3 linked regions of the Homo sapiens genome follow. The protein of the gene in region 3 purifies or fractionates together with the protein of the main gene of each other region. This does not show direct contact. Each region holds a gene or a part of one and is shown on either strand. Other genes may lie near its edges.

Evidence for each region.
Region 1: the proteins of SMAP2 (region 3) and RBMS1 purify together in Homo sapiens (affinity purification with mass spectrometry, with the first as the bait; one large-scale study listed by BioGRID). This does not show direct contact.
Region 2: the proteins of SMAP2 (region 3) and ZNF143 purify together in Homo sapiens (affinity purification with mass spectrometry, with the first as the bait; one large-scale study listed by BioGRID). This does not show direct contact.

Annotation. Positions count from the first base shown.
Region 1 is NC_000002.12:160,487,291-160,490,947, forward strand, and holds part of RBMS1 (RNA-binding motif, single-stranded-interacting protein 1), read right to left. Parts: intron 1-3,657.
Region 2 is NC_000011.10:9,509,446-9,513,102, reverse strand, and holds part of ZNF143 (zinc finger protein 143), read right to left. Parts: intron 656-3,657; coding exon 507-655; intron 1-506. UniProt on the Homo sapiens protein: Transcriptional activator. Activates the gene for selenocysteine tRNA (tRNAsec). Binds to the SPH motif of small nuclear RNA (snRNA) gene promoters. Participates in efficient U6 RNA polymerase III transcription via its interaction with CHD8.
Region 3 is NC_000001.11:40,404,699-40,408,355, reverse strand, and holds part of SMAP2 (stromal membrane-associated protein 2), read right to left. Parts: intron 1,621-3,657; coding exon 1,487-1,620; intron 1-1,486.

The sequences.
Region 1 (3,657 bases), on a different chromosome or scaffold from region 3:
CATATATCTTAGTGCCTTCTCAGTCACTAAAACCCAGGACATCAGCTGGTGTGCTGCTTTCGTGGGTGCACTACTTTGTAAATATTCTGTGCTTATTTCTTGCCTTGTGTCTATTCTGTCCTCCCTGGTAGCTTGTGAGGTGCTGGAGAGCAGGTACCAGATATTCAACTCTTTAAACTTTCCCAATGTCAAGTGCAAAGAATGATGTACTGGGGTCACTCAGTAAATACAATTGATTGGCTAGTGTTTTAGTCCTTCATCATGAGCCTCAGCAATTTTACAACAACTACCAGCTTAAATCTTTACCTAATCCAAAACACAGATATTATAGTGAATGTAGGAAATCACCCACCAACATTGATTTAGCATGTTTACAGTGCCAGATCTACATGCAAGCTAACTGTTCATATCAGCATCCAACCTCACTTTTAGAATCTAGGTTTTCATATTCAATGTCCAACATATTCTCAATCTTCTAAAATGCATCCATTTAAGAATTAGTTAAGAGACAACATGGGGAGAGAATAACAATGCTTAATTTTATACACTTTTCTCCCCTAGGAGGTTCAGATGTTGATTTTTTCTCTCTCCTTTTTGTTTTTCTCTCATCATTTTGACATGCTTATTTTCCAGGGCTTGTTTGAAAAATTAAAATATTCACATAATTTTGTTAAGGAGACTAGATGCATTGAGGAATTAGATTATGGGAGATATATGTTCAGTTTGTGGTTGGCTTAGCTGTTACCATCCTCTCTACACTCTTCTATTGACCTCATATCTACCAGACTAAGAAATGCTTTGTTTCTATTATCAAATTTGCATATGTACTCAAATTTGTGTGTGTGTGTTCAACACACACCATTTGTTCTAAAATTACATTTTGCTCTGTATCACCTAACCAAACTACCTATGGTAGACCTCCATCGTCCCATTGCTGCCTCTCATGAGGCACAGCTGAGTTCCATCAGGTTTCATTATTTATTCATTAAAATAAAACAGCAGAGGCTGGGCGCAGTGGCTCATGCCTGTAATCCCAGCACTTTGAAAGGAGGCTGAGGCGGCGGATCACGAGGTCCGGAGTTCAAGACCAGCCTGGCCAACGTAGTGAAACCCCGTCTCTACTGAAAATACAAAAATTAGGGAGGAATTGTGGCACGCGCCTGTAGTCCTAGCTACTTGGGAGGCTGTGGCAGGAGAATTGCTTGAACCTGGGAGGCAGAGGTTGTAGTGAGCCGAGATCGTGCCACCACACTCCAGCCTGGGCAACAGAGCAAGACTCCATCTCAAAAATAAATAAATAAAACAGCAGAGGAAACAGAACATTTAAATTCATCCCACATAAAATCCCCAAGCCGATGTTCAACTTTTGAATATTTGGTTTGGTTTTATACCAAATGTTATGGTGCTGCATTTGAACAACTGACAGGTCATTACTACATTTCTTTAAAATAAGCTATTTTAGATTGCATAAAACACTTCCACTTGAGAGTAACTTGACATACTCCTATTTCTATAATATTCTATTATTTCTATAATATTCCAATAAATAGGATAAAACTTTACTGTCTCAATTTAAAAGCTAGATGCCGAAATGGTTTCAATAAACTATTAAAAATACAAAGTCAGAGCAATATATTAGTAAAAATTCTTTTCTTGAATGTATATTACATGGAAATTCCCCACATTTGAATTTAAACTCAAAGCCAAGATTGCCTAAGATGTAAGGTGTATGTAGTTATACTGATACTAAATGACTGAATACTTTCCTAGCTCACCTATCTTTTCCTTTTCCCTTCAAGGAACTTAAGATTTGGCTCCCAACATAGGGGAAAAAACAAAAAGTTGTATGGGAAATTCAAAAGAAATAGCTGTTGGAAGAGAAGGGTGCTACACTGTTGCATTGTAATGCATCTTCATTTTAATAGTTACATGTCCTTCAGCCTTTCAATACCACTTCCAGATAGTCATACATAATACCCCACTCACTTAAGGAAATAAGGTTGATTCATCAGTGTAAAATACTGCATTACCAAACTGACATATTTTAAGCAAACTTTATTTACATCATAAATGTGGTTACTTCTTATGACACAAAGCGCCCCATGTCTGAATATTATGCCTGTGTACTTCCACTTCATTAGATGCAACAGTTTTATGTATCAAATCAGGACTACTAATTTCTGGAGAAACAGATTGATACAATATTCATTTGGCTAGAAGTAAGTAAGAGTTAAGGAATTCAATAAAAAATGCATGCAAAAGTTCAATGCAGAAAAACTGCTTTGTTCTACTAGCCTTTATTAATAGAATAAATTATATCATTTATTATTTTCAGATTCTGAAGCTAGGTTCAGATATATTCTGTGTCATAAGCGTATGTAAAAATGGCGTAAAAACAAAATTGTTTTGTTTTAGAAAGAAACGTATCTTTCGTATAGACATTTCTTCAGCATGGAAAACAATACTTCTTCATACACAAAAACTTAAAAAAATCAAGCTTTCCATTAATTTTATAGAAATATATTCTTAGAACTATGTGAATAAAGATTACAACTGTCCCAAATTGCTTTCAGTTGGTACAAAATATGTAGCTAACTAATCATGGAAAGAAAATTTTGTACTTCCCTTTCTTCAAAAGAAACAGAATATTTCAATCCCCATAACTATTTACATACATGCACTGGCAATAATGTATGTTGTAGTATCTTTGAAATAAACAGACCATAATTCAAGGGTTGCTTTTACAATAAGTGAAATTAATGCAGCCACTGGTTGAAAATGTGTACATACAAATCTTTAAGTTAAAATATGTTAGATTATCAACATCTTTTTTCTGTGTAGCTAAAAGATGGATATTAAATTTAATATAATACAGCATAGGTCATTTTAAAATTGAGAAAATTATTTAGGACAATATGTGGTTATGTTTATAAAGCTACATCAAGCTACATTTCAGAATGAATGTGTCAGCTGATAAAAAGAACCTGCTGTGATAAGACCATCCTCACTGAGAAATAAAAAAAAAAAACAAAAAACCAACAGCATGTGAAATCAGGTTACTTGAAATTTATGTAACTCTACACCAAGGTATTATGAATATTATACAATCTCATTCATTTCCACTCATGTCCTGCTCTTCCATAGTACACTCAAGTTTATTTTACATTTCATGGAGACATATTACTTTTTCTAATGATTTTTTTTCTTTCTGTCAAAGTACAAAGCATACCAATATGGTCATTTGCTCCAATATAGCCCAACGGATGGTATTTTTTTATTAATAAAATGTGGAAGTAACTAGTATGTTTTTATGGGGAAAATTACAAAATAAGTTTACCAAAATAGACTGGATCACTAAAACAAGAAGAATGGTTTGGCATATATAACTTTTAAAAGTATGGTAACAAAACAAACTGTTAAGTTCCATTTTACCTGGTATTATCTGTTCCTTCTGATTAAAAGAATTAGATTTGAGAAAATCACATCTATCTCTTGAGTACAAATTAGCTATCACTTTTTAGATGACCATGCCATTCTTCAGTTTTTGATATAGCTTCCAAACAGAAGTTTCAAAATGACTCTGCCTAGCAAACACATCACTGTACTTTAAACAGAGTGATGTTTTCTATCCCATATTTTCGGAAGGTTAAAGCACAC
Region 2 (3,657 bases), on a different chromosome or scaffold from region 3:
TGGCTAACAGAGAACAACCATTACACTGTGCTTTTCCTGGGGGGAAATCAAGATACCTATTCTACCGACTCTGTGAGGCTAGTTGAGTGAACTCTCATGATTCCTGATCTCTTAATGGTGCCATCATATGCTGATCACCTCAGCCAAATCTCTGTTTTCTCAATCTCACCTCCTGCATCTAATCAGCCACCAAATCCTATCCCTTTTCTGATCTGTGTTTCACATGGATCCAGTACTTTTGAAGCCCTGAGCCTCTCTGTGGCTGACCTTTATCATCTCACCTTTGAACTACACCAAGAATACCATTCGGATTCTACAGTCACAAACCTTCTCTCTCTCCTAATCTCTCTGCACGTAGTCTCTGTAAGCAGACTACTGAAAAACCTCAGGGTTTCCAAACTTTGTGCCCTGATATTTCAAAGCTTTCCTCAATGGGGACCCAGCCTGCCTTTCAAGCCCAGGTTCACAGAAAGATTTAATTTGTTTGGCTTTTGGTGGATACTTACATGCTGAGTCCCATCCTGGGATATGAGTGTAACTTGTTGACTCAGTCCAGATTGGGTTACTGTGGCTACTTGTGTAGAAACAACGTCGTCCCCTTCTACACCTGTAACATACGTAATCTGGGACCCTTTAAGAACATCTTCACCTTGACCTGTTTAAAACAAATGAATCATTTATTTGACCAACCAACCAATTTGTTTAGAAAATAGGACATTTTAAATATTAAAGAGAAAATTACATAATTAAAATGTACATGTATTATATTCTAAGTCACGAAAATGGCTTCCAGGACCTCCTTCCAATTCCTCCACCTCCACTTTTGCAAAGGCAAACTACATCAAAGCAGACCAAACAAAAAATCTTTCTGCATCAAATTTAAGTGTTCTGATTTTCAGGGACCTGTTTTATTCTCTTAGTTGGAGTAATTACTTGATACTATATGTGTATTAGGGGCGGAGAGGGGAGGAACTGTACAGGAAAACTAGCAAATAACCCTTCAAATACAGCAAGTATGCACTAAATTCTCGCATTCACTTAAGAGGCTGTTAGGCCAGGCACGGTGGCTCATGCCTGTAATCCCAGGACTTTGGGAGGCTGAGGTGGGTGGATCACGAGGTCAGGAGATCGAGACCATCCTGGCTAACACAGTGAAACCCCGTCTCTACTAAAAATACAAAAAATTAGCTGGTCATGGTGGCGGGCGCCTGTAGTCCCAGCTGCTCGGGAGGCTGAGGCAGGAGAATGGCATGAACCCGGGAGGCAGAGGTTGCAGTGAGCCGAGATCACGCCACTGCAGTCCAGCCTGGGCGACAGAGCAAGACTCCGTCTCAAAAAAAAAAAAAAAAAAAGCTGTTAAAGGCCAGGCACAGTGGCTCACACCTGTAATCCCAGTCAGTACTTTGGGAAGCCAAGGTGGGCAGATCACCTGAGGTTGGGAGTTCGCGACCAGTCTGACCAACATGGAGAAACCACGTCTCTATTAAAAATACAAAACCAAGGCCGGGTATGGTGGCTCACACCTGTAATCCCAGCACTTTGGGAGGCCAAGGCGGGCGGATCATGAGGTCAGGAGATCGAGACCATCCTGGCTAACACGGTGAAACCCATTTCTACTAAAAATACAAAAAAAAAAAAAATAGCCGGGCATGGTGGCAGGCGCCTGTAGTCCCAGCTACTCAGGGGGCTGAGGCAGGAGAATGGTGTGAACCTAGGAGGCGGAGCTTGCAGTGAGCCGAGATTGCACCACTGCACTCCAGCCTGGGCGACAGAGCAAGACTCTGTCTCAATAACAAAAACAAACAAACAAACAAAAACACAAAATTAGGCGGGCCTGGTGGAGCATGCCTGTAATACCAGCTACTCAGGAGGCTGAGGCAGGAGAAATCACTTGAACCCGGGAGGCAGGGCTTGTGGTGAGCCGAGATGGCACCATTGCACTCCAGCCTGGGCAACAAGGGCGAAACTCCGTCTCAAAAAAAAAAAAAAAAAAAAAAAAAGAAGCTGTTAAAAGTGGTTAAGACTATTTTCATTTTCATAAACATTAACCACAAAGCCAGAATGGTTTGCAAACACACCCACTGATACTAAACTTGGTCTTTAGCACAACTGATTGATTGCAAACCATCAGTACACAATGACCTCACTGTGTAAAGACAATGTATGGCATATTATCTGAGGTATGGTTAATAATTTAGTGACATAAAAGGAACCTCCATCACTTCTTTATTTCATAAAGAACCAGTAAGTAAACAGCAATTTCAACAATCCATTACTACTATAATTGTCAACCAGGAAGATTCCTGGTCCCTCTCGTCTTTCATCACTTTCTACCTCCCATGAAGTCAGAAAGAGAGCAAAAAAAAAATGTTTCCCCCTCAAAGGACATAATATGCTAATCTAAGAGTACTTCTCAATTCAGTGGTTAATCCATGCACTCATATGGCTACAGTCATCAACGTGTAATTTCCATGACAGACATTACTTCATTCCTTTTTGTTCTGTTCCACAGCTATTTATATACCATTATTCCAACAGGTTACAAAACCCAGTGGATCATGTGAGAGAAAACAGAAATCCATCCCTATTCTTGGAAAAACAATCTTAGTTTAGTTTTGTTTTTAAATAAAATGTATATTATTATATTATAGACTATTTTCTAGAATATAGGAACTTCTGGGCTGGGTACGGTGGCTCACGCCTGTAATCCCAGCACTTTGGGAGGCCGAGGTGGGCGGATCACGAGGTCAGGAGATCGAGACCATCCTGGCTAACACGGTGAAACCCCGTCTCTATTAAAAACACAAAAAATTAGCCAGGCATGGTGGCGGGCGCCTGTAGTCCCAGCTACTCAGGAAGCTGAGGCAGGAGAATGGAATGAACCCGGGAGGCGAAGCTTGCAGTGAGCCGAGATCGCACCACTGCACTCCAGCCTGGGCAACAGAGCGAGACTCCATCTCAAAAATAAAAAAAAAAAAAAAAGAATATAGGAACTTCTGATAACCTGAAATATCAACATTTAAGGAAGAGACTTGAGGAAGCTTAGAAAAAGAGTCTTGCAAACTTAAGTCTGATATCATTAAAGCCTGCTTTCTAACTAAAAAGACTCAGCAGTTGTTGTAGGATCTTCTTATTTACTTCCTTTCTCTTAGCAATTGTCAAATATACAGTACATTATTATTAACTGTAGTCACATGCTGTGCAGATCTCCAGAACTTATTCCTCCTAACTGAAACTGTACTCTTTGACCAGTATCTCCCCAATTGATGTAATATTTAACCATGCACACTTACAGTGTTCTGGCTAGAAAATAATCACCATGAAGACTGATGGAATTGCTATTAACCTACCACCACCTAACAAATACCTGAAAAGACAAATCAGGACTACAAGGAATCATCTGAGCAGATGATCTGTTCTTTCCCTTACTCTCCAACAAACCTTTTCCACCTAAATGTTTTTCAATGCTTCAATATATGTTGTTAAAAATGAAAAAAGATGTCTTCTCTTAATTTTCAAATTTACTTCATTTAGGAGGTACTCAATGAAACTGTAAGACAACTTGCTTTGTTTTGTGTTTTAGAAAAACCGACTTCCTTTTACCTACTTACCTATGCTTATTTATCTGAAATAATTCAATGTAATTCTCTAAAATAT
Region 3 (3,657 bases):
TACACAGCTACCAATTAAAATGTCTACTTGGCAGGCAATGATCAGTGTTATCATTCTGAGTTTATACTATTAATCAATTCCAATAAATGTGTTTCCCATTAGGCTTTTAAGTAGACTCCTTAACACTTGTGAGGGATAAATCCCAAGAGCTTTTTAAATCTCCAAATTCCCGACTATCTCCATGGCATATAATTTCCTTCATAAAACAGAGTGAAGTGTAACTGAAAAATGTAACTCACCTTTTTAGACCTTTAATACATCTATAAATACAATCTAAAGCAATTTCTAAAGCCATTTTCTGGTTAAGCGTAACCTCTGATTTCCATTACCAACTTTAGCAACTGGATTTGGGGGGCGGGGGGCTTCCCTTTTACTCCCAAGAAAGAAAAAATTGAAATTAAAGCGTTTCAATGTAGGAAGAGAATAAAAAATAATGAAGCTATATCAAGGTACAGCTCTTAGGCCAGCCAGACTCATTAACTTAGGAGTCTCACTCCAAGCCCACCAAGCTAACAGCATGCAAGATTCATGTATGCATTCCAGCTGTTACAGCTTTTTAAAGATGATAACAATAAATCTAATATACACATTGTCCTATTTAATATACTTTTAAGGTTAATTATGTTTAAATTTATTTAAAATTTTTGAAATTTTAAATGTTATCTAATTCCACATTTGTATGTGTCTAAAAATATCAGAAATGATGAGTTTACAAAAATGGATACATTTTAATATTATGTACCATTAAAATATTTTCTCTGTCTTAAAAAAAAGATTCATGTATGCATTTTAGTAATAAAATTTTCCCATAAGTCTATGATTTGGAGGTTTTTTTAAAAAGTGAATTTTTATTTATTTATTTTTTTGAGACAGGGTCTCACTCTATTGCTCAGGCTAGAGTGCAATGGCATGATCATGACTAACCGCAGCTTCAACTTCTGGGCTCAAGCAATCCTCCCACCTCAGCTTCCCAAACTGCTGGGATTACAGGTACGTACCACCAGGCCCAGCTAATTTTTTAATTCTTTATTTTGTAGAGACAGGTGTCTCACTCTGTTGCCCAGGCTGGTCTTGAACTCCTAGACTCAAGAGATCCACCCACCTCGGCCTTACAAAGTGCTGGGATTACAGGCATGAGCCACCGTGCCCGACCAAAAGTGAATATTTGAAACTATAAATTTTAGACCTGCAAATGCTAAGAGTCTTAGAAAATCACCCAAAGATCCCTCTTAATACTTTCGTGGGCCCATGGAATCCTAGACCGTAGACTATTTCTGTTTTTAAGGAGGTAAAATATAGGTAGAATAACTTGTATCTTAAATAGAAAGAATAAAAATTTCTGTTAGGGTACAAGAATCTGATGTTAAGTGTTTAACAACTAAATTTTCCTTTATCTTCACCTTTGTGCCAGGTTTGACTGAAATTCATCTGGAATTCCTTTTACATAGATATATGGAAGCAGCTGACTCACTCTTGGGCTAAGTACCTGAATCTGTTCTTGAGTCCACTGGTCGAGGTTAACTGACTTTACCCTGGATATGTGCACCCCCAGATTCCTGTGGATTCCAGCACATCGAATGCAGATGAACACACCAATGTTCCAAGAGGCCCATCGCGGCCCTGTGAAAGTCAGGAACAGGGCAATAAAGTACAAATTACAACATTCAAGGCCTAAACTACAATATTAGATTATCAGACATTTCTGCTAGAACATAAGTGAAATAATTTTTACCATAACCACCTGTTTATTGACTCTGCTCATTCCTCCATGTGTCAGCTTTTCTTTAGTTTAAATTTAAGTGTACAATACAGTGGTTTTTAATATATTCACACAGTTGTGCAATGATTACTACTATCTAATTCCAGAACATTTTCATTAGTCCAAAAGAAATCACAAACCCATTAGCAGGCACTACCCATTTTCTCCCAGCTCTTCCTCCCAGCCCCTGGCAACTATGAATCTACTTTTTATCTCTATGGATTGCCAATTCTGGGCATTTAATATAAAAAGAATTATATAATAAGTGGGCATTTGTGCATGGTACAATTTTTTTACAGTGTCTGCTAATATGAGTGTTGAAACGCAGATGTTATAAGACTGTTACTTATATTAAGAAAAATCCCAGGAGTGCAAAGCCATGTCATATTCTATTTGGCCGAGCACCTTACATAAACAGTCCTCTCCCAAGAGACGTTTTAGTGGTGATGGGCCTGTATTCACCACTTTTTAGTGGTGGCCTGTATTCGGTTTTCCTACCAGGAAAAAAGATAGATATGGCATGCTTGTCCATGGCTCAACCTGTAATTGAAACTGTGTTTATCTTCCCCCCAACCCCAGGCCTATAAAATATGCATTCGCATTAACTTAATAGGATCTTTTCCCCTTAGGCTGATGTTCCTACTTTACTCAACTACTGAAGTATCTTGTTTCAAGATTGCCAAATAATAAAGATGCTTATAGCAACAAAAAAGAAATCTCAAATATGAATTTTAATTCAAAACTGTTACAGAATCTCCCATCCCCTGCCAGTGTTACTCATCCTAATAATCACTCTGAAAAATTATCATACTCCTCTTCATAATTTTTACCCAGGAAAGAAAAATGACTTATATGAAACCTGCCAAAAACTTACTAAAAAATCAGAAATACTTCCTTCTCCATTATCCCACTTGGCAGAAATTTACCACATAAAATAAGTGTGATATAAAAATTAGAGGATGCAATAAAGAGGTGAAAAGACACTGATTTTCTACAGAGATAAACAGGGCCTACGCTTGGAACGACAACGAGCACAAGACTTCAGTTCTTTAGGACACAGACAATTATTTGGTTAGCTAGCAGGTTTTTAATTTTTTAATTTTTATTTTTAGAGGCAGTCTCGCTGTCACCCGGACAGGGAGTGCTGTGGCACGATCATAGCTCACTGCAGCCTCGTCTTCCTGGGCTCAAGCGATCCTCCTGCCTCAGCCTCTGGAGTAGCTGGGACTATAGGCGTGTGCCACCCTGCCTGGCTAATATTTTTATTTACTGTAGAGACTAGGTCTCACTATGTTGCCCAGGCTGGTCTTGAACTCCTGTCCTCAAACAATTCTCCCACTTTGGCCTCCCGAAGTGCTGGGATTACAGGTGTGAGCCATTGTGCCTGGCCAGCCTGAAGGTTTTGACAGCAGTTTTAATGAAGGAATGCTAGAATTGTGTGGCAGAAAATTAGTTTTAGAAATTTGAATTCATGATTATTACAAATAAGAATGTAATTTTTTGACAAAGATATCACTTATTTACTATCGCAAATACTGCAACAGAAGGCTCACATTCTCCTTATTACCACCAGGTGGTGCTCTCCGCCTGAAATTTTATCCCAATACCTTATTGCTATCACAAGCTCCGATTTACCTTCTAAAAAGATATTTAGTCCCTTCACATTCCTAGATGGATTTACATAGTTGGTCCGCCATGTATCTAATAAACACAAAAATGATTCGCACACTTGTTTCATGTGGGAGAGTGTCACGTCAAACACAAAATGAAAACCCTAAACTGATGTAAATGGGGTTTCTTAACATGTGGTATATCCATTTTAGGTTACAGTTTTCATAAAGGAACTCCAATAAGATCTAAGTTATATAAGATTTAAAATGGCACCAAGTTAATATTTC